3 linked regions of the Homo sapiens genome follow. The protein of the gene in region 1 interacts with the protein of each later gene in a pairwise test. Each region holds a gene or a part of one and is shown on either strand. Other genes may lie near its edges.

Region 1 (7,000 bases):
TGTTTTGAAGAATAAGTGGATTAATGTGCTGTAAAGAGCTCAGCTTGTGCCCAGAAAGGAACAGGGGCTCAGGCAGTGCTGTGGCCACGACAGTTTGTGACACCATGAGGCAGGGCAGAGGCTGGATCAGATAAGCCCCAAGGGCCTGTCTTGTCCCTCCAGTCTGAAGATCCAGTCTGATCAGGTCAGCAGGACCCACCTCCCCAGGATTTCCCAGTGAGACAGTGTGCAGGGCACACACAGGCGGCTGGGGCAGATGGGCAGGTGTTCTGGCCATCTGGAAGCAAGGTGGCCCTGGGCCATTAGGTAAGGACAGGCCTCAACGAGGACTACACAAGGAGCAGATCAACCCCCGGCTGGTCAGGACAGCGGCCTTGCGTGCCCCTCCCCTCCATGCAGACGGCTGCTGCCCACCTTGGCCAGGTCCCCTGGGCTCATTTGGCTCAGCAGGTCCAGTGAGAGGCGGTGGTGCGCAAAGATGGGCAGGTAGTGCTCAGCCGACAGCTCCTCCAGGAGGGCCACCAGCTGGCGCTCCATCCCCTCTTCCTGCAAGACAGAAACGTGTACCATGAGCAGGAAGGAAGAAAAGAACCCACTGTTTACAACAGGAAATGAAGGGTTTGAATATTTATAACATAATACATAGAATGTACTCGGGATTTTTCCTACAAAAACTCATAGGTAGGCACACAGAGATAGATAGATAGATAGGCCCAGGGGTTCACTGCCGCTCTGTCTGCAAACCTGAAAATAGTAAGCAACTTGAACATCCACCAAGAGGGGGCTGTTTCAACTGCCTCTCTGTCCCCGCAGGTGCTGGACAGACAGTGGCTCCCGGCACAGGCTTTGCTCTACTGTGGGCTCAGTGGTCTCTGCCCTGCACAGCAGTGACCAGTGCCTTGTCGTCCCCCTCACCAGAATGAACACTCCCTTACTCTCGCTTCTGTCTCCACTGGGGCTTGGCACAGGATCTGGCATGCTAGAGTCACCAGAAAAGTAACAAGAGGCAGAGCATGGTGGAGGCACCACAGGCGCCTCTGGGAGGAGGTCCCCAGGGCTCCCTGGCCGGGACAGGCACCAGCAGTCCTTACTTGCAGCTTCAAGGACAAGGGCTTCTGGTTCAAAAGCCGTTGATACTGAATCAGCCAGTAATTTTCCTGCCTGGTTTCACTTTTGGCTTCTAACTCCGTCTGCCAGGAATGAAGCAGGCAATGTTAGTCACAAAATGGTAATAAAACCTGTAATAACAATGATGGTTGCCAGGCGCGGTGGCTCATGCCTGTAATCCCAGCACTTTGGGGGGCCAAGGTGGGCAGATCACCTGAGGTCGGGAGTTCAAGACCAGCCTGACCAACATGGAGAAACCCCCCACCTCTACTAAAAATACAAAACTAGCCAGGCATGGCGGCACATGCCTGTAATCCCAGCTACTCGAGAGGCTGAGGCAGGAGAATCTCTTGAGCCCGGGAGGCAGAGGTTGCAGTGAGCTGAGATCGCGCCACTGCACTCCAGCCTGGGCAACAAGAGCGAAACTCCGTCTCAAAAAAACAAAACAAAACAAAACCAAAATGATGGTTATGAACCATGCTCCTCTGAGCGGGTGGACAGCACTTGGTACTTTTATTTTATTTTTGAGATGGACTCTTGCTCTGTCACCCAGGCTGGAGTGCCCGAGTAGCTGGGACTACAGGTGTGTGCCACCATGCCCGGCTAATTTTTATATTTTTAGTACAGATGGGGTTTTCACCACGTTGGCCAGGCTGGTCTCAAACTCCTGACCTCAAGTGATCTGCCCACCTCGGCCTCCCAAAGTGCTGGGATTACAGGCGTGAGCCACTGCACCCAGCCTGAATGTGATTCTTTTATTCTGCCATTCGATAACTCTTCGTTGAGTACTGTTCTAGGTGCTGGGAATACAGCAGTGAACAAACAATGCTGATAACAGCCACGGTGACAACAGGCGTAGCTGACATGTTCACAGTGCCATGTGCCAGACCATGCTGTGCACCTAACGATGCCATCATTAATTCTCACAACTCCGGGAAGGAGATTCTACCTCCCAGGTGAGGGAGCTGAGGTTCAGGGTGATGAGTAACCTGCCCAGGGTGGGGCCAGGAATTGGACCCAGGCCTGTCTTGCTCCAGAGCCCGTGCTCAGAACAACGGAGCTGTTCAGTGAGGGCTGGCATGACATGGGGAGTGGGATCAACACAGGCGTTTCTCAATCCCTGCTGGGCCTGACTGCCCTTTGCGGGCCCCTCCTGGACCTGGCCACGCCCACTGCTCCCTTCCGTCGTTGGCCCTCCCGGGCTGCAGCCCCTCTCTTCCAGCGCCCAGGAGCCGGATGGGCTGTGTTCTGCTGGGGCGGTGCTTCCTCCTTTGGTGGTGACCCCCAAGGCCTACAAGGGCAGGGGCACCAGCCATAGTACCTGGCTGCTAAGGCACAGCGCCAAGGCACCATCTGCAAAGTAACCTGATGCGTAGGAGATGGCAGTAGGGCACCGTGAGGAACAGGCAGCTTCCTCTGATGGGCACAGGCACCACTTGGCTTGTTCAGGGCTCCAGAAGCAGCTGGTCTCTCTCTTCTAAACCTGCACAGGACCCGGCCTAGGACGCAGCTCAGAGGGCATCTGGTGCATTCACGGGGACACAGGAACGACTCGGTCTTTTCCACCCCAGATGGTGAGCCTGGCCTCTGTCCTCATTGCTTGGGTGCCCTCTGGGTCTAGAGGAGACACTCTCAAGGGGGCCTCTGCCACGCTGAAAATGTGCCAGTGTCAAACCCATCAGGGGACAGGGACAGCTGGGCCACTCCTGCCAAAAGCTTATCAAACGGCCTGCCCTGGACATAGTGAGTCCTGTCTGGAGTGAATACTCATGGCTGTTCCCGAATACTCGACTACAAAGGCATTCGGAGAGCATTGCCTAGAAAAGTTTAAAAACCAGAAGTAATCCACATACTCAACAATAGGGGCCACGGACAGCCTTGAGAAAGGACGTCAAGGAATAGTTTAATGACTTGAAAAGAATGTGCGGAAACAGGCTGCTCGAAAAGGGTATGCAGCATGCCACGTTTAAAAGGCGCATACACGAACAGCTATAAAGGTGCATCACAATGTTTGGAAAATATGCATCAAAACCGCAGGAGAGGCTAGGCGCGGTGGCTCATGCCTGTAAAACCAGCACTTTCGGAGGCCAAGGCAGACAGATCGTTTGAGCCCGGGAGTTGGAGACCAGCCTGGGCAACATAGCGAAACCCCATCTCTACAAAAAATAAAAAAATTTGCCAGGCATGGTGGCACATGCCTGTAGTCCCAGCTACTCGGGAAGCTGAGGTGGGAGGATCGCTTGAGCCCAGGAAGTCAAGGCTGCAGTGAGCTGAGATTGCGCCACTGCACTCCAGCCTGGGCGACAGAGTGAGACCCTGTCTCAAACAAACAAATAAAAAATGGCAGGAGATAACGCTTGGAAATGCAATTATTTTCCTTTGTACTTTCCAGTTTTTCTTTGATGAATAACTCTTACTTGAATAACAGGTGTTTCTAAAAATGGCAAGTCTGTTAAAGAAAAGCAAATGCCTGTGTGATGCTGAGCACAGAAGCCAAACACATACCAGGATTTCCCGGAGCTCTTCCTCTCGCTGCTGCTTCTCTTTGAGCAGCTGCTGGAGCAGGGAGCTGAGGGCCCAGCGCTGCTCCGAGATCATCTCCTGCGAACAAGACCACACCCCGCACCACCGTGAGCTGGCGGCAGCGCAGGAGTCCCGCAGTGGCAGGATGGAGAAGGGCCTGGCCTCCCGCTCACTCGGTTCTCTGCCCAATGCCTCCAGGCTGCGTTGGGGGACAAAGCTAAGAGGCCCTTCTGCCCCCTTACCCTAAGCCCGCATCTCTCTTCCTTGTGGGGTTAAGTCAGGCATGGGATCCTGGTGACTGATGACAATGGGATGGTAAGAAACATCAAACAAAAGAAATGACAAGCCACAGGTGCCTGCCTTTGGTCTCCCAGACAACAGAGCACATGGGCAGAAGCAAATGGCGGGGAGCAGTGTGGGGCCCCACACAAATGGAGGTGCGTGCAAACCAGAGCCTGGGGTCCCTGCTTCACTCCTGCGCCTGCTCTTGGAAACCCCATGGGGGCCCCAACAGCCAGAGCCCTGCCACACTTGTGGGCAGGGACTAGGGCACCCGCCAGGCATGATGACCGCAGCTTCTCTGAGAGCAGTCCCAGTCCCCTCATCTCTGGAGATCATTTCAAGGCTCACAAAGGGCTTTCCCTTGCTAGCTCAGCCTTCTCCGATGGCCTGATGGCACAGGCTGGGCCTGGAGGACCGCTGCCATCTTATGGAGTAGGGGAAGAAGGCCTGGAGGGGCAGAGGCCTGTCTAAGGGCACACAGCACACCTGCGGTGCACCTGAGACCAGGGATCCAGATCCCAGACCCTTCACTGCACTGAGGAGTCCATGGGATGGCTTGAGACTTCTCCACTGAGAACAGACACAGGGACAGTGACAGACCGAAGGCTCTGCTCAAACTCCTGGCACAGGCACATGTCCTCACACACCATCCCATCCAGCCCTCCGTCTGCAGCTGGAGAGGCTGAGGTTCAGAGAGGGGAAAGGGCTGCCTCTCCTCCCCCACCTGCCAAAGTTGCACAGCAGGGCTGTGCTGGGCCACACCCGGCTCCCAGGCATCCAGTCCAGGACGCCAGCTGCCAGTCCCTGCTGCCCTCTCATCTGTGTGCGCAGGACTCCCGGGCTGGAGCCCCAGAGATGCTGCCTGCAGGGAGTTACACAGATGCGGCTGGGCCCTCTCCTCCAGACAACCCGGGACACCCAAAAGCTCCAGCCCTGGAGGATGTGTGCCTGGGGGCCTAAAGCACGGCCTACAGAGAGAGACAGGAGCTCAGCGGCGGGCCCGCACCCAGCACAGGAGACACAGTGATGGAGATGAGCAGGGGAGCCTTGGCAATGAAACCCTCCTTCCTCTGACCCTCCTGCCTCGCAACAGGCTGACCACCTCTAACCTTGGCCTGCGCTGGGCCTTCTGGGGCTGGGGGGTGTCCTCTGGTGTCACAGCCACAGAGGAGCTCTGCCCTCTGTCTGCTGGGGAAGCCCTTGACTCCCAGGGGCTGGTGAGCAGCTGCCAGAGGCTGGGAGGGAGCACCAGGTGGGGGTCTCACCACGTGAAGGAGGGCAGGGGCAGGGAGCCCTACATACCTGGAGTGACTCTGTGTCCAGGGACTTCCTCTTTAACTCCAGCTGTGTCAGCTGCAATAACTCAGTTTCTATTAACTTAATCTAAACAGAAGACGAGACAGGGTTTTTTTTTACTCACATTAACCACAGTTCAGTTTTGTGCTGCTACTCTCTGGTGACCAAGTGGGTCTAAGAAGCCTTTCTGGGGAGGCTGGGGAGGCTCTGGAATGAGGGGAACCTGCGGGCCTGGGAACCTCGTCAAGGGGCTTGAACAAGAATTCGTTCCTTCATGGCCTCGCGTTCCTGGGGCATGGACGTGCTTGTTGTGGCCAAAATTGTTTACCAAGAGGCCAGCACAGGATCTCTCCTAGAGTGGGATCAGGATAAAGGCTTGTGCAATGGAGAGGGGGCTTTCCTTGGGGATTCAGGCCAGAGTAAAGCACAGACAGAGCTATCACCCAGTCTCCTGCTGGTCAAGTTCTCTTGTCCCTCGCATCGCTGTTGCAGGGGAGAGCAGAGGGTAGTGGAAGTGACTGAGTAACAGTGGTAGTAGTAGCTGGTATGTCTTGAGCACCTACTATGTGCTAGGCCTGTGCTGCACACTTGATGTATCATATTTCATCAATTCTCTGGCTGCTAGGAGGTATTATTGCCTCCATTTTATAGACAAGAAAACTGAGGCTCAGAGAGGTTCTCACTTGCTCAAGGACACAGAGCAGGTAAGGGAGAGATCCCTTTCTCTGGGATGCCTCAGCTCAGGGTTTAAGGGCAATAGCTGACCTGGTCAAAACCATCTGCAGTGAGAATGTGGGGGGCCCTCACAGGCTCTCCAGGGTGTGTCTAGGGGATTTTAGCCCTGGGCAGGGGTGGGGGTCAGACCCCATAGCCAGTACTTCTCTATCCTGTGCCCATGACCCTGTGACCCTCATCCCTAAGTCCCTATGACACCACCAACCCCTGGTCAGAGGAATGAGCTTCATGTCCGGCAATGTGGAATTGAAATTAAAGAGGGAAATTAAAAAGGTAAATTGGTCCAAAAAAAGAAAGAAAGAAAGAAAGAAAGAAAGAAAAATAGAGAAAGAAAAAAACCATGCAAAAATGCAAAATTCAGTGTGCTGAACATGATGCAGGAGTACTCCCATAGCCTGACGCTCACTTCAGCCCCAGCCCCAGCCCCACTCCACAGGCGGTGACCACCAAGCCGTGTAGGTGGGCTTGCCCAAGGCTTGAAGGTCAGCAGCCGGCCTGCGGGGGGTGGGGGGTATCTTGTCACATGAGGGAGGGTCTAAGAGGAGGACCGCCTCCTCCTGGGCCGAGGTCACTTTTCAGCAGGCGTCAGGACCACCGTGGCTCACAGCTCCCCCTGCCCTCTTCTGGGGGAAATACTATATGCCCCTGAGACGCCTCTGTCTGTCTGAGCTGTAGGAGCGCTGGGGCCTGCGCCGGCTGCTTTTCCCAGTGGGGAAGTCCTGCCTGGAGCAGGGACAGCAGAGGCAGCTGGAGCAGTCAAAGCCACACATCAGCACCAGCCTCCCTGGCCCAGGCGTGGTGGAGACCCGCCTCGCTGGCAAGACCCTCGCCAGACCCCGGAATAGGAGGTCTCTAGACACCCTCCCAGCAGCCCCGACACAAGGCTGGGAGCAAAGGGAGGTTCTGAGGGCAAGGCCTCGACCTCTTGTTGGGCTAGCAAGCCAAGGAGCTGGGGTTCAAACCTCAACTGCTGCGACCTGCCGCCCTGGAGGGCCACTCTGCAAGTCTCTGAGAGAGCAGGTCCAGGGACCCCAGCCCCAGCGCTCACCTGGCTCCT
Region 2 (8,637 bases), on another chromosome or scaffold:
ACAATAAACACACTTACAATACATGCAATGAATGAGATCATTGCTTATCCGTTGCTTTTCTTACATTGTTTACTGTTCCTGCAAATAAGAAATACTTGATTTAAAGTGTATAAATATCTGTCTTTGTTGCTACCAATCCACTTAGTGAGAGCCTTGGATTTTGAAATGTTCTATTCAGTAGACCAGCAAATACCAGTAAATCACTTTGCTCCTAGGAGAAATTCAGGGTTAGGTTCCTAGGAACTTGTGGTTACAAGGTTTTGATCAATCAATATACAACCTTGATGTATGTGTGTTTCTGCTTAAATGTGTCTGATTTAATATAAATGTTTGATTCATTAACTTTAAACTCACCACCAATGGCACTGTAACTCATGTCTGAGCAAAGCTTATTTTCTCAGTAAGGTTCATCACAGCCTTATTGTACTTAGGAATATTAGATAGCACTTCAGCACTGCTCTTGGGGGCCATTTTAAATGGCAAAGTCACCAACAAAAGACACAAAATGTGCAAAACACGTGACACTAAATAGACTGCAAAAAAAAAAAAAAAGAGAGAGAGACTTGTTTACAGAATGAGAGCTGAAACAAGAAGGCAGAATGTCACCGTGTTCAACCTCAGCTGGGAATGTGCACTTGGCATGACTCACATTTTTCACAATTCCACACATGTCTGGGAATAACCCCAAAAGTGCCAGGAGAATTAATTTGGAGTTACAAATAAATCACAGTGGATTCATAAATACAGAATCCTCAAACAATGAGGATCAGTTGTGTGTATGCTTACACTTGTATGTATTTACATACAATAATATATCCATTCCACACTGAATTGTGTGGCAGACACTATAGTAAGTATTTTACTTATATCTTCTGCCTTACTATAGTAATTCTGTAATGTGTTTCCGTCACTTTACCTTTAACAAATTGAGGGCTGAACAGTTAAAACCACCTGTGAATGTTCCCATGGATATAAGCAGAATTTAAAACTGGGTCTGACTTCACAGCCTCTGTTTGTGGCCTCTGGTATTTGGTATATCACCTATTTTACAAAGAAAGGAGTTTTGTAAGATCAAGCAAGTGGACAGGGATGATACATTCCTGTTAAATTGGAAAACCACTGTTTTTTACCATCATACTTGACTAAAATTTAAATAACCAAGGTAACTAAATTTGAAAATAAAACTATAGACACTTAACTGCCTATTATTATTCTAATGTATGCTTCCAATTTTTACACATCGAACAAGTATTAATTAAATACCTACTATGTGCCCAGAGGTACAGTCATGAACAGAGGCAGTAATAACTGTGGTCCCTGCAGAGCACACCTCAGAATGGTTCTCTATCCATCCAGCCTTGTTACTGAAGACACACATAACCCTAGGGCCACTTCAAACTCTGAAGGGTCAAAAATGAAAGAAAGGTTATTGCTAAATTTGATGTCATTACCTGTCAAACTAATGATGTCTGGGAATTATATGAAAGATTGCACTCATATCCATTTTTACTGTGAATGATAGATGTGTTCATAAAAGCTTATAACTGAAACAATAACTTTAAGGGATAATGTAGCCACCAGGATAGATTAGACTCTCCTGTAATACCATACAACCGCAAAGTATCACAATAAAGGCTTATTTCTTGTTCGTGCAAAGTCTAACGCAGTTGAATGGCTCTCTTCCATCTTGTAGCCAGGTCTTAACACACAATCAATTGCAAGTCTGGGGCAGATAAAAAGCAAATGGGTGTCTGATAAGCAAAGTCTCTGCTACAGACACAGATGAATGTTCTTATTAATGCTGGATAGAACCTAACCATTCCAATTATGCATAATCTTAAAAATCACTTTGATGAATGGTGGAAAATGGAGAATAACTATAGTTTAAGGATTTTCTTCCATACATCAGATTTCCTCTCATTCATATTTTCTCCAAAAGTAAGTTTCTAAAGAGAAGAGTTAAATGATGTTTTCTTCAGGATTTTGAATGAGATCTTGCTGATATGGATTTATCATAAAAAAAAAGAGGTTGGGGGCAGGCACAGAATCAGGGCCTATGATCTTTGCCAGCTGCCAGCAGTTAACTGGAGTTTGCTCATATACCGGGTTAGTGTCCCCTCAAATTTATGTCCCCCTAGAAGCTCAGAATGTCAATGTTTTTGGAAATAGGTTTTTTGCAACTGTAACTAGTTAAGCTAAAATGAGATCATATTGGATTAAAGTGTGCCCTAAACCCAATGACTGGGGTCTTTTTTCTTGTTTTCCCTAAGACAGGGTTTCACTCTGTCACCCAGGCTGGAGTGCAGTGGTGCAACCTCAGCTCACTGCAGCATCAACCTCCCAGGCTAAATCAATCCTCCCACCTCAGCCTCCCAAGGAGCTTGGACTATAGGCATGTGCCATCATGCCTGGCTAATTTTTATTTTTTTGTAGGGAAAGGGTCTCACTACATTGCCCAGGCTGGTATCAAATTCCTGGGCTCAAGCAATCCTCCAGCCTCAGCCTCCCAGAGTGTTGGAATTACAGGTATGAGCCTGCTCTCAGTCACATCCTTTTCATCAATCTCTATCCCAGGCACCTCCCCAGCTCCTGACTGGTGCACAGCCTGGGAAGACTGCTTCCATTTTATACAGACACTCACCCTAGCACCCGTTGTGAGTTTCTGTATAAAAAACCCTTTGCCTCCTTGATGCATGTTCCTCAAGATCATCCAGTCTCTAGATCAAGAGTCAAACTTTGTATGTAAAGAACCACATAGCAAATATTTTAGGCTTTGTGACCTGGATCATCCCTGTTATAACAACTCACTTCTGCCATTGCAGCATAAAAGCAGCCACAGACAATATGTAAATGAATGAGTGTTATTCCAGCGGCTCTGCCAAGCATTTCAGAAATTCTAGTAAACATGCACCCATCTGGAGAAGGCGACTCAAGTTGCAACTCATTCTGCAGGAGACCCAGAAGATGCTTGATCAAAGGGCAGCTGGAGGGGGTGGAAAGGTAGTGATTCACAGATCCCAACTGCTCACCCTCATCAGACGAAGTAGCTGGCAGAAGCAATGAGTTGTGGTTCAATTATTCCAACACAGAAATCACCCCAGTTCAAGAGCCTGTTATTCACGGGGGTGGGGGCAGCATACCTGAGCAAAATTGTTTCTCTTACATCTTGATTCAGTTGACTGGATTTTCTGTGTTCCTTTTTTTTTCCTTTTGTTTTTATTATAGAAGCAATTTCAAGCCAGCTTGGTTAATTAGGCAGAGCGGTTCCTAGAGGAGCACAAGGCAGCCACCACGTGGAAGGTGAAGCCCTGGAGAAGCTGCTGCTGGGTGTGGCTGCAGGCAGTAAGGGAGGATGGCCATCCGGACTCCATTCAGGGAGCTGTACTTGATAATTCAGGAGGCCATAGTGTGGGTTTTCTTTTCCAGTGCCTCCTGGTCTTTCTCCTGTACTTGCAGTAACTTGAGAACAAGCCTCCACCTTATACTCTAAGGCTAGAATTCAGGTTCCTGTTTTGTTTTCTACGCGTGGTCTCCAGCCCAGCATGCTTGTATTAAATGGTGGTGTCCTGCCATGGTCTTCTCAGCCTATCCTTTCCTAGAACCCAGGACTGCAGCAGGCCTTGCTACCATCTGCCAGGCTTTCCCAACACCGGCACACTGCTGGTTCATTTGCATGCTCCCTGGGCCCAGAGCCTCCGATGCTGGTGCCATCCTCCTATCAGGCCTTCAACCCTTAACCTGGGACACCCCCACAATGCCTACTTCTGCTGTTGGGACTCAAAACAATATCTCAAAATGAAGACCTGAGCAGCAGCCTCAGAAGTGAAGTTTTTCTCTGACATTCTCCTACCCTCCTGTCTCCCAGTCCCATTCTCCCCCAAGGATAGCCTGGAAACCTGCTTCTCCAAGGCAGATCTTAGAAACCAGAACCGCCTTTTCCCCAAAGCCAGCCATAAAACCTAAAAACTATTGATCTAACTTCCCCTCACTCCCCTCACCTTTCTGTGTAAAAACTGACCATAAAGAAATTATCTGTTTGACCTTGCTGGAGAGTAGGACATGAGACCCCCTTTCCAGAGAGGGTCCTGCCCCACACCCAGAAGGAAGGAGTGCTGCTCAGAGAGGCCAAGAAGAATCTAGACAGACAGGCTTTGCTAGGTGTCCCCACTCTGTCCAACAGCATTAGATCGTTCCCTTTTTGTGCAATCATATTTCTACAAGGCTGCCCTTACTTTGTTGAAGTAACCATAAAAATGGCCAATTTCTACTGCATTTGGGTCTTCATTCTGAAGGCGCTCGTGTACACACATTGCATACATTTGCATGTCTTTTCTCCTATTGACCAAACTGCCTCATGTCTGACTACTTGCTCCCTCTAGTAGGAGGCCTTGCTTTCTCTGCTCCCTGCCAACAGCTGGGTTGACACCAACCCAAGCCAGGAGCCAGTTTAGCTTCCTAGGCCCTCTGATCTGTCTGGTGCTGCCACTTTCCAAGATCCTTTCTGCTCAAAGCAGTGACAGAGGGGAATGGATGGGAGGGCAAGCTGCAGAAGGGGGTATAAGCTGGGTGTGAAGGGGGAGCTGGCGCAAGGCAGGCCCAACCTGAGCCATAGCTTTCGGTGCACCACACCCTATTCGTTCCCTTCTTGCCTATCCAGCAACCTGGTTTCTGCAACAGGGAGGGCTGAGCTAGTCCCATGAACAGCCAAGACTAAGCCATTAAGTAAAGGCTGTACTTCGCTTTTTCCTTTTCCTTTGGAATGTATTGATGATGGCTAACAAATTACACTCGAGTTCTATTTCCCAGATCTGAGGGTGTTTGAATTCAGGAAAACAATTGGATGCTTGGTTGTCTTGAAGCTGTATTTAAATTCACAAAGAACTGGTTTTGCCATGTGGCAATTTTTTTTTTTTTTTTTTTTTTTTTTTTTTTTTTTGCAGAAAGAATAACTCTCCCATTTGCTAATTGATGTGATAAGCAAACACACACCTTCTCCTCTTCCATCATTACCTCCAAAATTTAATTTAACAGTAATATTCTGCTTCAGCAGAGAGAACAAATGGACTGGTTATTAATTCATGGAAAACAGGTAAAAATTTTCCAGTGACTGTTTTTTTGAGGTGTCTATTTTAAGAGATTTGATGGGGAGTAGGTTACAAGGTGAATATGCAACATTTAAGGGAGCAAGAATCAGGAGTTTCAATTGACTGGCTGCTTGTCAAAGGCTGAAACACAACCTGTGCCCCCAAACATACTGAGCTTGTCTCCAGATTTCATGTGTTTTGCAACCTCATCCTATGCCTGAATGTCACAGCCACCTTTACAAAAACAATGTTGTTTAGTTAAACTAAATAGAAAAATACAGTAAAATGATTCCTTGTGATTCTCTAGGTAAAAGAATACATTTTTTCTTAAGAAAAACAGTGGTAAGGATAAAAGCCAAGCATTGTTTTAGGCTCTCTCCAGTTTGCAAAATGCCATTTACAAAATAATTACACCTACAGTTTATGCATGATTCATTAGACAGCAGATAAAATGTACTGCTAAATTTTAATCGCATGGAAAGAGTAGGCACCATGAAATACGCCCCCAACTTCTCTGGATTCTAACCTGTTTGGTCACATTTCTGCCACAACATAAATCTTGTCCAAATAGTTTATCTTGATTAAATTATAACAGTGTTTTAGTTTCATGATGTGATAGACCTCTGAAGAATTTATTTTAGTTAAGCAATTAGAAGGTCAAATCATCGGTTATCAATATTTAAGGTTTTACTTGTGAAAGTTAATAGGCTTGAATCACAGGATCTCCTGCAAGATGAATCACAGGATCCCCTGCAAAGATGATGAGAATGTCATCTCAGAAAAAAAAATAAATAAATCAGTTCTTGGCACACTAAAGTACTTTTAAAGATTATAGTTTTCCTTTCTTTTCCTCCCACTCTCCCCTGCCAAGGTAAAAAAAAGGATGATGTCCTGCATTATAGACATTGGTAGGGGACCTCTCTATTACACATGACACAGCATGCATGATCCACACTAATTGCAGACGGAATCTAGAAAACAGAATAGATATCACATCTTATATAATACACAGTAGGAATGATAGACAATGCACACAGCTCTTCAGCAGATGCAAGCTGCTGCATTACTTCATCGAAAGGAACTAGGGTGATAGAATGAGCACCTGAAATGGTATTTAGGGGTCTTAGGACAGCCAGGTCTGCTGAGGTCAGCCACTCATCCCTTTAGGCTTTGAATGACGTCTACCATTAGGCTCTGGTTCTGGCAACTGCGTCTGAAGGAGGAGCATGATCTGCAAGACAGGCCAGCACTTGGTTTTCAGGGTCTCCCCACGATCACTGTTCCTGCACGTACCTGTGGTCTTTAATGGGGTCTTCTCTCCTAGCAAGAGTTTTAACCTCTTGGCGTGGATTTTGCCTTGATAATGGGAATCGGCCACCACCGCTGAAGTGAATGACATGTTGCAGAGTGTGCAGCACTTGTTCTTATCCACCATGTCGGCATCACTTCCCTGCGCAGGGAGAAAGAAAGGCCACGTGTGAGAGAAACCCATTCCATTCTTTTACAAATGAGACTTACCCAGACGAACTAGTGTATTGAAATATCTAGTTTTTGTTCTGCAAGCTGTCTCTCTCTCTTTTTGCCTTGCTTTCTACTCTCTTCTTTTTTAAAAAATTTTTTTATTATACTTTAAGTTCTGGGATACATGTGCAGAAAGTGCAGGTTTGTTACATAGGTATACATGTGCCATGGTGGTTTGCTGCACCCACCAACCTGTCATCTACATTAGGTATTTCTCCTAATGCTATCCCTCCCCTAGCCCCCCCACCCCCTGACCGGCCCCGGTGCAATCTCTTTTTCTTCATGATAATCATCATCAAAACTTACTCAGTGACTGACTTTGACATACAGTTAGTAGCTATTAATGCCAGATACTGGGATTTCAGGACAAATTTGTAGAGATGAGTTATCCAAATAAAAACGGGGCCCACAATTAAGAGAGGGCACATTGAGCCTGGCATGGTGAAGGAAAGCAGTCTCTAATTGGACCCATTATACTCATTAAAGTCTGTAAAATATCAGAGTTCAGATAGCCTGAATTATTTAGCAGAAATTATCATTTGTTATTCCGCTCTGCTTTTGACCAATTTTAGCCTCACCAGGATACATGGCCATGATGTTCAAGATTTTTAGAGATTTCTTTAAGGAATTGAGTGTTTTTCATAATTAACTCGATTCTGTATCATAAAGCTATGATGACTGTGCTGGCTGGATTTTCTGGGAGAGTTTGTGTAATTTTCCTTTTTTTCAGGAAAGGTGATTCATTAAATGCTGCACAAAATGCTTAAATCCAGCTGGATTTTTATTCCTTTGTAATACTTAATGAAAATGAATCATAATTCAGAAAAAAATAAAACCTTGGTCAGACCATGTGACCTGCTATTGTGCTCGCAGGTCATCAATTACCTATACTTATGAAGGGAAGGAGTAATCCATTGCTTCCCCTCCTGCTTAGTTAGAAATGGAGGGCAGAACAGACTTTTAAATAAGAAGTTAATCTATTCCTTAATGGTGCAGCAATAGCCGAACATCTCTTTGTTAAAGAGCAAGCTGGAATGAGTATATGGCCCCACAATGGCCGCTTCTCTTATTCCTAGTGAGCCCAGACAGTACAATTTAAAATTGGATGGTGAGGAGGATGAGGGTGGCAACTGGTTGGAGGAAGGGAATTACATATTTTATCTGCATAGTAATAAGATGTCCAGACTGCTAGAGAGAGTGTTGCCTTGCAAATTATGTGGTAGTTAGGAAATGAATTCCTTCCTCCTTAAGACATTAGTCTGTAATATCTCTGATAATTAGCATTTCATCCTTGGAAGGAAGGGGTTGTGTGTGTGTCCCAGGAGCAGGAGGCTTGCCTGAAGTTCAGGGAGAGACTTCAAACATTGGGGCTGGGATGGAGGTTGTCAGTGAGTGGAAGGGACCACTGGAGAGAGGAGGGGCTTTCCCAATAGGTCCTCTCCTGCTAGGAAATCTAGTAGCCCTGAGGCTGTGCTCATTGGCAATACTCTCGCTGAGGGTTTAAAGCCAAAGTGCTTTCAGTTTTCTCCATAGAGAAAAAAACAAAATAGTACGAATACTTTTAGTTCTGTGTGGAATACTATGGAAATGAAATGGACCTGGAGGTAAGGGGCAGGGTTGGCTTCCTGGCTCCCCTGAGCTACCTACCTCCTCAGTCAAGCCTAGGAGACAGGATGGAAGCCAGGGAGATGGCATATACCAGGATCACCAGGAAGAGGCAAATCAGGGAGTTCCTGAAGGGTTCCAGCCCATTAAATGAGGAGTAGATTATGCAAGAGGAATGAGAGACCAAACTTGGTGCCTCTTTACTACATGCTGGAGGATATATATTTGTCTCACTTTTTAAAATTTGTGTACATTTGAGGGATACAAGTGCAGTTTTGTGACACAGATATATTGCAGAACGGTGAAGTCTGGGCTATTAGCGTAACAAAGAACTAAAAATAGAACTATCATGTGATCCAGAAATCCCACTAATGGGTATCTACCCAAAGGAAAAAAAAATCATTGTGTTAAAAAGATAACTTCACTC
Region 3 (8,637 bases), on another chromosome or scaffold:
AGACAGACTGCCACAGCCAAGGAGCACTGGACAGAAGATGAGGCTGAGAAGAAATGCTATGAACAGGAAGGGAGACAAAGTAATCCCTATAGATAGACACTGGCTATGGAAATTAAGGAAATGGGATGGACAACACCCCTGGGTCTTCAGACAATGTCTAATTTCAGAATTAAGAAATGGATACACAGAGGAAAAAGAAAAGTCAAATTATGGCAGTGTTTGTCTTAAGGCAACCAATACACACACCTGTGGTTGAAGCAAATCGTATAAGAAAATGTGTCTGTAGTCCAAACGCATTTCATAGTTACTGGCATTAAAACAAAACAAAACAAATAAGCCTAATACTATTGCTAACAGAAGATAAAGTTGAATGTACAAGTGTGAACTGGTCAGAGTTGGGCAAATCTTATTGGCAGTTGAGTCCAATCACTCAAGTTAAACCTGACCATTCCATACTGCTGAGATCTCAGTCTGTAAAAATGCAAGGAGATGCTAATCCTGAGGAGTGGATGAGTTTACATGAGCTACAGTGGCCCCTAATCACATATCCATAAACATAAATGAATTCACCCACGTTTCCTTCTTTTATATTACAAAATATTGTAAATGTGTGTGTGCATGCCCCTACACATAATACAAATGTATTGGCATAGTTGGTACAACTTTAGGGACTTAAAAAGGGAATTATGCTTCTAACTACCATTTTCGGTTGAATAACACAACCCACCTCCTTACGAGACACACTGCAAACTATGTCTACCTAAATAATCTAACCTGGCACAGACAAATGTGTTTAGCTTTTTACATTTTTACTTGATTTTCTTTAATATGGAAAATATCCCTAAGAAAGTAACCTAAAGACCAGGAACTTTGTTTTGTTTGTGTTGTACCAGCATCTAGAAGAGTACCTGACGCTCAAATGCTTCAAACAAAAAGTTTATAAAAATAATGGCCCTCCAACGTGTGTTGAAAGAACGAATGAACATATAATATTACTGGTCCACCTGCCTGTCTCTCCAAGCAGATGTATAAACCTCTCCTCAGCTTGAATGTTCCCGGTGCCTAGCACAGTACAGCCAAATGAAGAAAGCAGGCAGATACATTTTCCCAGCTCAGTTTGAAGCCTAAGTAGGGTTTCCACTGAGCTGTGAAGAACATTCCAAACAGAAATCCGATAGGGGTTGCCCAAGGCTCACAGGATAAAGACTGACTGCATAACTAGGCTCCGGAACCCTGCACACTCTAAGACCCTTGCTTACTGCTCCCTGCTCCTTTGGTCCCGCGTACCTCTTCTTCCCTCTTTCTGTTCAGCCACCTGGCTGGCTTTAAGGTTCTAAGGAATTTGCTCTGCCCCTGTCACAGAGCCTTCACACATATTGTTTCCTCCACCTCTCCTACCTCTCCCATCCCTCTCAAGCCCAGATAAATCATCACATTGATTTCAGCCCAATGTTCCTATGGCAAGAAAGCCTTCCCTGGAAAAACTTCATTTTTGCAGGCTTTCATAATGTAGTCCTCTCATCTTTTTATAACTCATCAGTGGTAATTTTACAGTTATTTTGGTGATTAATACTCTCCATCTCTTTCATTAGACTGTAAGCACCACAAGCATAGGGAACACGTGGTTATTGTGCTAAACCCTTTATTCCCTGCGACCTAGAAAGAGTGAGGCCTGTGCTCACAGATGTACGTAATAAAAAGTTCTACAATGAGTGAATGGACAAAGGCTACAGGAGTCACAAATCTCTCCGCGTGGAAGGCACAGAGGACTTTCGACGGGATATTAGACAGATGAAGAAGTGAGGAGGGGCAGTGAGGATGGGAGACAGACAACAGAGAATGAGTAATGGGAATGAACAGCAGCAAATCCCCTGACGGTGAAGAGAACAGATAACGTTCTAAGTCTAAGACAGAAGAGACCTGGCAGCAACTTGGGAAACACTCAGGGTAGGGACATGCAGGCATGTTTAGCCCTACCAAGCTTAATAGATTCAGACCAACGTGAAGGCAAGGAAAAGGAAAAGAACTGACAAAACAATGAAAAAAAGTCAAGTCATCCTGTAAAAGGGCAGGCCTGGTGGATGCTGCATTTTCTGCCAGTTCTATGCTGATCTCATGACAAGCTGGGTCTCAAGACTTATTAATGCAATGACAGGCTTAGCCCAATGCCACGGAGAGTAATGACACCCTTAAAGAAGGACGACAAGGGGAGCATATATCATTTGAAAAGGAAGATGTGAGAAAAATGCAGACCCATTCAAAGTCACTCCACCTAGCAATAAAGGCACAGGAAGAATGCCAGTCAAGCTCCTTGAAGATTTTGAGTTGAAAAAAAACTTTTGGCAACCTCACTTCTGGGTAGTTATCCAAAATAACTGAAATCAGAATCTCAAAGAGCTATTAGAACTCCTATGTTCACTGAAGTATTATTTATAATAGACAAGATGTAGAAACAATATAAATGTCTGTCAACAGGTGACTGGATGAAGACAACATAGTATATACATACACTGGAATACTATTCAGCCCTTAAAAAGAAGGAAATTCTGCAATATGCTACAACAAGTATGAGGTAAGCTTGAAGACATTATACTAAGATAAATAACCCAGTCACATAATGACTAAACACCGCATGATTCCACTTATATGAGATCTATAATCAAACTCACAGAATCAACAACTAGAGTGGTGGCTGCCAGCGGCTGAAGGGAGAGCGAAATAAGGAGTTACTAATCAATGAGCATAAAGTTTCAGTTATAGCAAGATGAACAAGTTCTAGACATCTGCTGTATAATATTCTTTCACAGTCAACAATACTGTCTTGCACACTTAAAGGTGTGGTTCCCTGCCACGCTTTGTAAATGACTGAAAAAGAACATCTTGGGTTTGAAAAAAGCAAACCTCATTGCCCACAGGTACTGTATTACTGAGAAATCCATGTTACTGAGAGTCAGGTAGGCAGGAAGAGCGCAGAAGGAGAATGGCAAGTTGTGATCATGATGTGGACAGGGCTGAGGCATGCTTTCACACATTCTCTTAGGGACAGCTGAAACTGACATAATTCTACAGAACTCAGGTGGCTATCTTCATACACCACCACCACTACACCACTGTGTGTCCAATTAGTACCCTATACAAAAAAAAAGCAGTTTGTTTTATGAGAGTTTTTAACCTAGAAATCCAAGGATGGGCTTGGGGTGGGGGTGTCCATTAATCCAAGATAGAAAAATTCAGAATGTGTATGTGTATGCACTATTTTATTCTCGGAAGATGGACCGTGGTTTTTTTTTTTTAAAAATGAGATATTTAAAGGTACTCTTGACCAACCCTTTTCCCCAAAAAGGTTCTGAACCACTGTTGTAAGACAAAATCTATATACTAAAATTAAATTAGAAGCTTAAAGTAAGAACCACTTAAAAATTTCCCACTCCAGAAGACTGTAACATGCCTCCACTGGCTGGGGCATGGGACAGGGCCTGAAGTCCTTTATTCAAATACACTTTAATAAAATTTAAAGTAAAACACTAACAATTTTATTAATTTTTAGAAGAAAATGCTAACTTTTATCATTTTTACTTCCTCCCTCTAAGGTTTTAAAATTACATACTTCAAAGCAGTGACTCTGAATGCTTCTTGAACCTATCTGGGGGGTAGCTGGGGACACCCTCCAGAGAAATGCACATCAACATACAAGCTCATTTATGTAGAGGTGTTCACTGATGACCTGAAGCCACCCCACATCAATAACCCACACTTTTCAGCAAATATACCTTATTAGCATACTGGCATTTTAAAAGAAGGAAGACCCCAGAGCAAAAAGGAAGACCATTACATTTTCTTAGCTTGTATATAAATTATTAATATATTTTATCTAGTTTTTTTTTTCTCTTAAAAGAGATGGGTCTCGTAATGTTCTCCAGGCTGGACTCAAACTCCTAGGCTCAAGCAATCCTTCTGCCTCAGCCTCCCCACTAGCTGGGACTTACAGGCATGCCTGGCTTGCAGTATTTTTTTTTTAAACTAGAAAACAGGGATATTTCAAAATCACAGATTTTTTAAAAAGTGGTTCTTTAAAATTTAAGACCATGGGTGACACATTTTTTAAATGTTCATACACACGCAAGGGAAATTTCTGCACTTGCTTTAAGCCAGTATAATTTAAAGCACAGTCAAGGGTAGCCTATATGGAAATATTAAAAGTTTTTAAAAATAACAGACTGGGAGAGAACACTATTCCTGTGGATACAACACTGCTCATTAGAAACAAAACCTCTGTCAAGATTATAATTTATAACAACGCACTTCACATTTTGTCAATCTGAGGCTTTCTTCAACAGAACCAAGTTATTCCTTCACCTACACAATTCACAACAATCCACAGAGCATCTTCTCTGGGTTAGAGAGACTGTGGGAGTAGTGTGGTACATCCCAGTCACCCATGTTTATCAGGATGGTCGACTTGACTTTCAGGAGTCCACCTACCTTGCATGTCAAAGACCGGGTGCAGGGCTTCTTGGTGTCGAGATCAATAACCCCACAGTGGATGTCAGGATCAAACTCTCTTTCTGTCAAAAGAACACAGGCATTACATGTGGCCTGACAAACTCTCCTCCATGTATTTTTTAAGCAAGAAAATAGAAGAAATCAACAGTTAGATAAATTATAGCTGGAATAAAAGCCACATTATCAATAAAATAAAAAATATACAACGTGTGAGTGCTGCAACAAAGCAGCAACATCACTAAGACAGGGGGTGACTACTGCCATCAGATGGTAGAAAAGATATTGTTTAAGTCTGTATTACTTCCTTCAGAAATACACCACTAGAAAGCTACTTTTACATGACACACACACACACACACACACACACACACACACACTCATGCTCTTTAAAACCCAAGAGTGAAAAGAACAAACATATTAACTAAGGAACTTCCTCCTAAAGCTGAAGTTGACCAGTTTTAAAAATAGGAATTCTAGATTGCAGTTGATTTGCTCCCCACGAATGCCCATTTAATATATAGAGAAGCATTATGAAGAAAGAAAATTTGAAGTTACCTGATAATCTCTTATTTAAAAATTTCCTATTATTGGAATTGTCTTCAGGTTTCTTTTCCAGAGTGGGCGGTGCAGGAAGCCCTTTGCCATTCAGAATCTGTCCAGGTGAAGGCAAGGTTGGCTTTGGTATTGAGGGGCAGTTAAGGCCAGGCTTGACTAAGGAACTCACAGTAGCAGGACAGGTTGGCCCCACCGCAGATTTCAGTAGTGTGCCATCCATTTTCGGATGAATCTTTTCCACTTTCACAGAGGGTGTCATGCTGTCACAGGAGGAAGTGAGAAAACCAGTGCCTGAGTGCCTCAGCAGCCCCCAGGTGAATGGTGAGCCAGAGGGATGAGGATAGAGCCTGGGCCTACCCAAGCGCTGCACAGGGCCAGCCTCTTGGAAGGCTCCTTATGAGTTTTGTTAGTAAGGTTCATACTGATTAAGTCTATAAGCCCTTCTGGTGAGGCAAAACCCTCAGTGGACCATCAAATTTGCCTGGTCTTTCATCATTTCAAAAAATTTTACACATGAGGCAATGGGAAACTCAGACCTGATACCCAATGCAATGCAATTTCTATAAGAAGCAAAACATGAGAAGGTCTAAAAGAAACAAAGACTATTTGCAGAACCCTTGGAGAATATCTTTTGAGGACTGCCATTTGTACGAAAGGATTCATCAAAACAAAGTAAACTTCTGAGTGAGCAAATATTTCCAATAAATGTCACTAAAGACTTATGAGAACTCAAACATGCTAAATAACATATCTCCAAGAAGAGGTTCTTTGCTTCTGTCAATAAGGGAGACTAGTGTTTAATAAATATATGTTGTGTCACTAAAGTGGTAATTCTCCAGTCCTTGAAAAATGTTTCTATGACAGGAGCTTAGGGAATACCTGTGCCATTAACAAAGATATGAATCTTGGAATCTTACTGACACTATCATTTTGCTTGGTAAAACTGAAAATACTGGTAGGAAGCTAACAACTGGCCTGGTTCCTATCTAAAGGCCTAGCTCTAAGTAAAGAAGATTTGAATCAATGAGGTTGTATAAACTTTGTTCAGTGGAGTCAGTGCTCTAACAGCTGTTAAGCTGGCCAGTGACTTACACACTACACTGGCACCGTTTGTGGCTTTCAGACTGCTCCCGGAACAAAAACCAAGCTTGCTGTACTGTACTTCTGACAGAAGAACAGGGGCTGGGGGCTTAGCAACCAGGACAAACAGCCCCAAACAACTGTACCTGGAATAGCCTGACAGCAGTAGAGAGACTGCAAGATGTCACATCCTCTCCCAGCTGGCAAGGTCCTTATGCAGCAGCAGGTGCTGGACCCTACCCTGAGATTAACCAGGTTACCGGATCTTGGACCTACGATGTGTGCTATACCCTCCAAAAGCAGGCTGGCCCAAGAAAAGCCATCCGTCACCAGGCTGAGGGATGCCATGACAAGGCGAAGCATGTTCCTATTGGAGTGCGTGGCTGCTCCCTCACGTGACCTCAAGAAACCTGTCAATCTACTGAGTGACCATGGAAACTTGCCAAAGCCATGCCTGGCAGGTGTGAACTTCCTTCAGTCTTCCCTCATCACTGCTGTGATGTGAACCTAAGGCTGAAGGGAGGAAGCACTGCTTCCCTATTTGCTCCGTAGACCCCCAAAAATTCTACAGCAGCATCTGGGAATCTCTGCATCTTTTTATCATTACTATTATCCACAGCAGCAGTAGCAGGAGTGCCAGTATCCATTTGTTAACCGTCCCCTATGGCCAGACACTATGCCAGGTGCTAGACATATATTAACTAAAATATTCTCAATAACCCAGCATAGTGGCTGTTATTCTTAGACAGAAACAGTGCCTTGCCCAAACCCCTACAGCTAAGAAGTGACAGAAATGGGACACAAATCCAGGCCTATGTGACTTGAGGCCTTTTTGGACAAAACTCCCCCACCTCACGAAGCTTCCTTCTCCTCATCTGGAAAACGAGGATAGTAACAGTACCTATTCCATAGGGTTGTTGTGATAAGTGACATAGTACACACATAGAGTTAGGTTTCAGTAGCTAGCACACAAGAATGGATCAATAAATGTTAGTAACCTTATTATCACTGCTATTACTACTCTGAAAAGTTTCCTATGACATGACAGGGAAACATCAAGAAACAATACAACATACATTTGAATTCTTCCCCAAGTAGACTCTCTTTTATATTACTCACAGGCACTCTCACATGCCACTAGTGTACACAGTTTCATTTCCAGCAGGTAAGCTTTAAAAACCCTCTTGGCCATACTCACATTCTACCATGGGGAACTCTACTTTGCTGAATGGGATGCATTGGCCTGGTGTTCCCCCTGAGCTGCAGTTTCTCTTTGGGTGATTTCAACAACTTGGAACTTGATGAGGATGCGCTAAGAACACCTCCACTGGAAGAACGGTTGCTTCCACTTGCACTGCCTCCTTTGCTTTTGGACAGAGAAGGGAAGAAGGAAAATACTGAAGTGGGAGGAACGGCCAAAGGCGGCTTGCTGGATGAGCTATGTCTTCTTTCTGAAAACGAAAGCAAAGAAAAAAAGACATCATGTTTTAGGCGAATCTCAAATGTAATTCTGGAAGAATTCCCTGAAATCAATATATTCAGGTTAAAACACGTGTCGTTAAGTGAAGGTATGTTAAACTCAGCAGACTTCAGAAATGGCTCATCTAGGCCCCACAGACTTACTTAGCATTCTAGGAACGGGTCCTTCTCTTTCTGAAGTATCTCAGCATAAAGAGTTTTATCACATACACCCATCAGGAAATTAGACAACCATCGTAAACATGAGAATATTGCCTTTTGGGTTTTGCGTGCTAAAAATGAACCTCATTGGCTCCAACTTGCATTAAGAGAGAGGAAAATTATTCATTCATCTGCAGAGCTCTGCTAAATGACACTGCAAGCAATTCTTTCTTCCTTTCTAACACCGCACCTCTCTGATTTTCAAAATAGCAAAATCTTAAGAAACAAGTTGTACCTTCTTTTTTTTCCCTGTCACTACCCACCAGCAGATGACACCAAATAAGAATGTTTCTAGGGTTATCTTATCGTTCCCTAAGAATCTGTGCTGAAATTTTCCAGTGAATCATTTCACTTCCCACCCCCCCTTTTTTAATAATCTCACTTGACTACAGATGGCATAGCTCCGGTTCACACCGCTAAGATGCCAAAGGCGCAAGACAAAAATACCACAAATAGCTACGCCTGTTTTTTAAACCAGGAAGTAATTCATGGTTAAGTACAGACTACAAAGGTTTAGCTGAAAATAAATCTATCCACTGGAGAATCAGGTTTTCTTAGAGTAAGGTAATCCATACTAATATAAATCAAGAGCTGTTGAAGAATGTTACCATCAGAAACAAGTAAATCATTTGGTAACTTTATCCGCTTGAGTACCTTAGTGGCTGCCTTTAATTAATTAATTTAAAATTACACATTTGCTTAACTCTAAGTTTTAAAATGCATGTGATCCAACACTGCCTTATCACAATACAGGAGCTATATAAGTATTTAAAACATTAAGCACATGATGATCAATGACCACAAGTAAGACTTCAATGG

What was found.
Region 2: the proteins of LRSAM1 (region 1) and ZMAT4 interact in binary tests that used the Homo sapiens proteins (3 or more experiments, as listed by UniProt).
Region 3: the proteins of LRSAM1 (region 1) and ATXN7 interact in a two-hybrid assay, tested with the Homo sapiens proteins (one study listed by BioGRID and IntAct).

What each region holds. Positions count from the first base shown.
Region 1 is NC_000009.12:127,489,510-127,496,509, reverse strand, and holds part of LRSAM1 (E3 ubiquitin-protein ligase LRSAM1), read right to left. Parts: coding exon 6,992-7,000; intron 5,296-6,991; coding exon 5,215-5,295; intron 3,709-5,214; coding exon 3,613-3,708; intron 1,191-3,612; coding exon 1,092-1,190; intron 547-1,091; coding exon 415-546; intron 1-414.
Region 2 is NC_000008.11:40,690,868-40,699,504, forward strand, and holds part of ZMAT4 (zinc finger matrin-type protein 4), read right to left. Parts: intron 6,535-8,637; coding exon 6,378-6,534; intron 1-6,377.
Region 3 is NC_000003.12:63,978,867-63,987,503, reverse strand, and holds part of ATXN7 (ataxin-7), read right to left. Parts: intron 7,590-8,637; coding exon 7,337-7,589; intron 5,319-7,336; coding exon 5,059-5,318; intron 4,566-5,058; coding exon 4,483-4,565; intron 1-4,482. UniProt on the Homo sapiens protein: Acts as a component of the SAGA (aka STAGA) transcription coactivator-HAT complex. Mediates the interaction of SAGA complex with the CRX and is involved in CRX-dependent gene activation.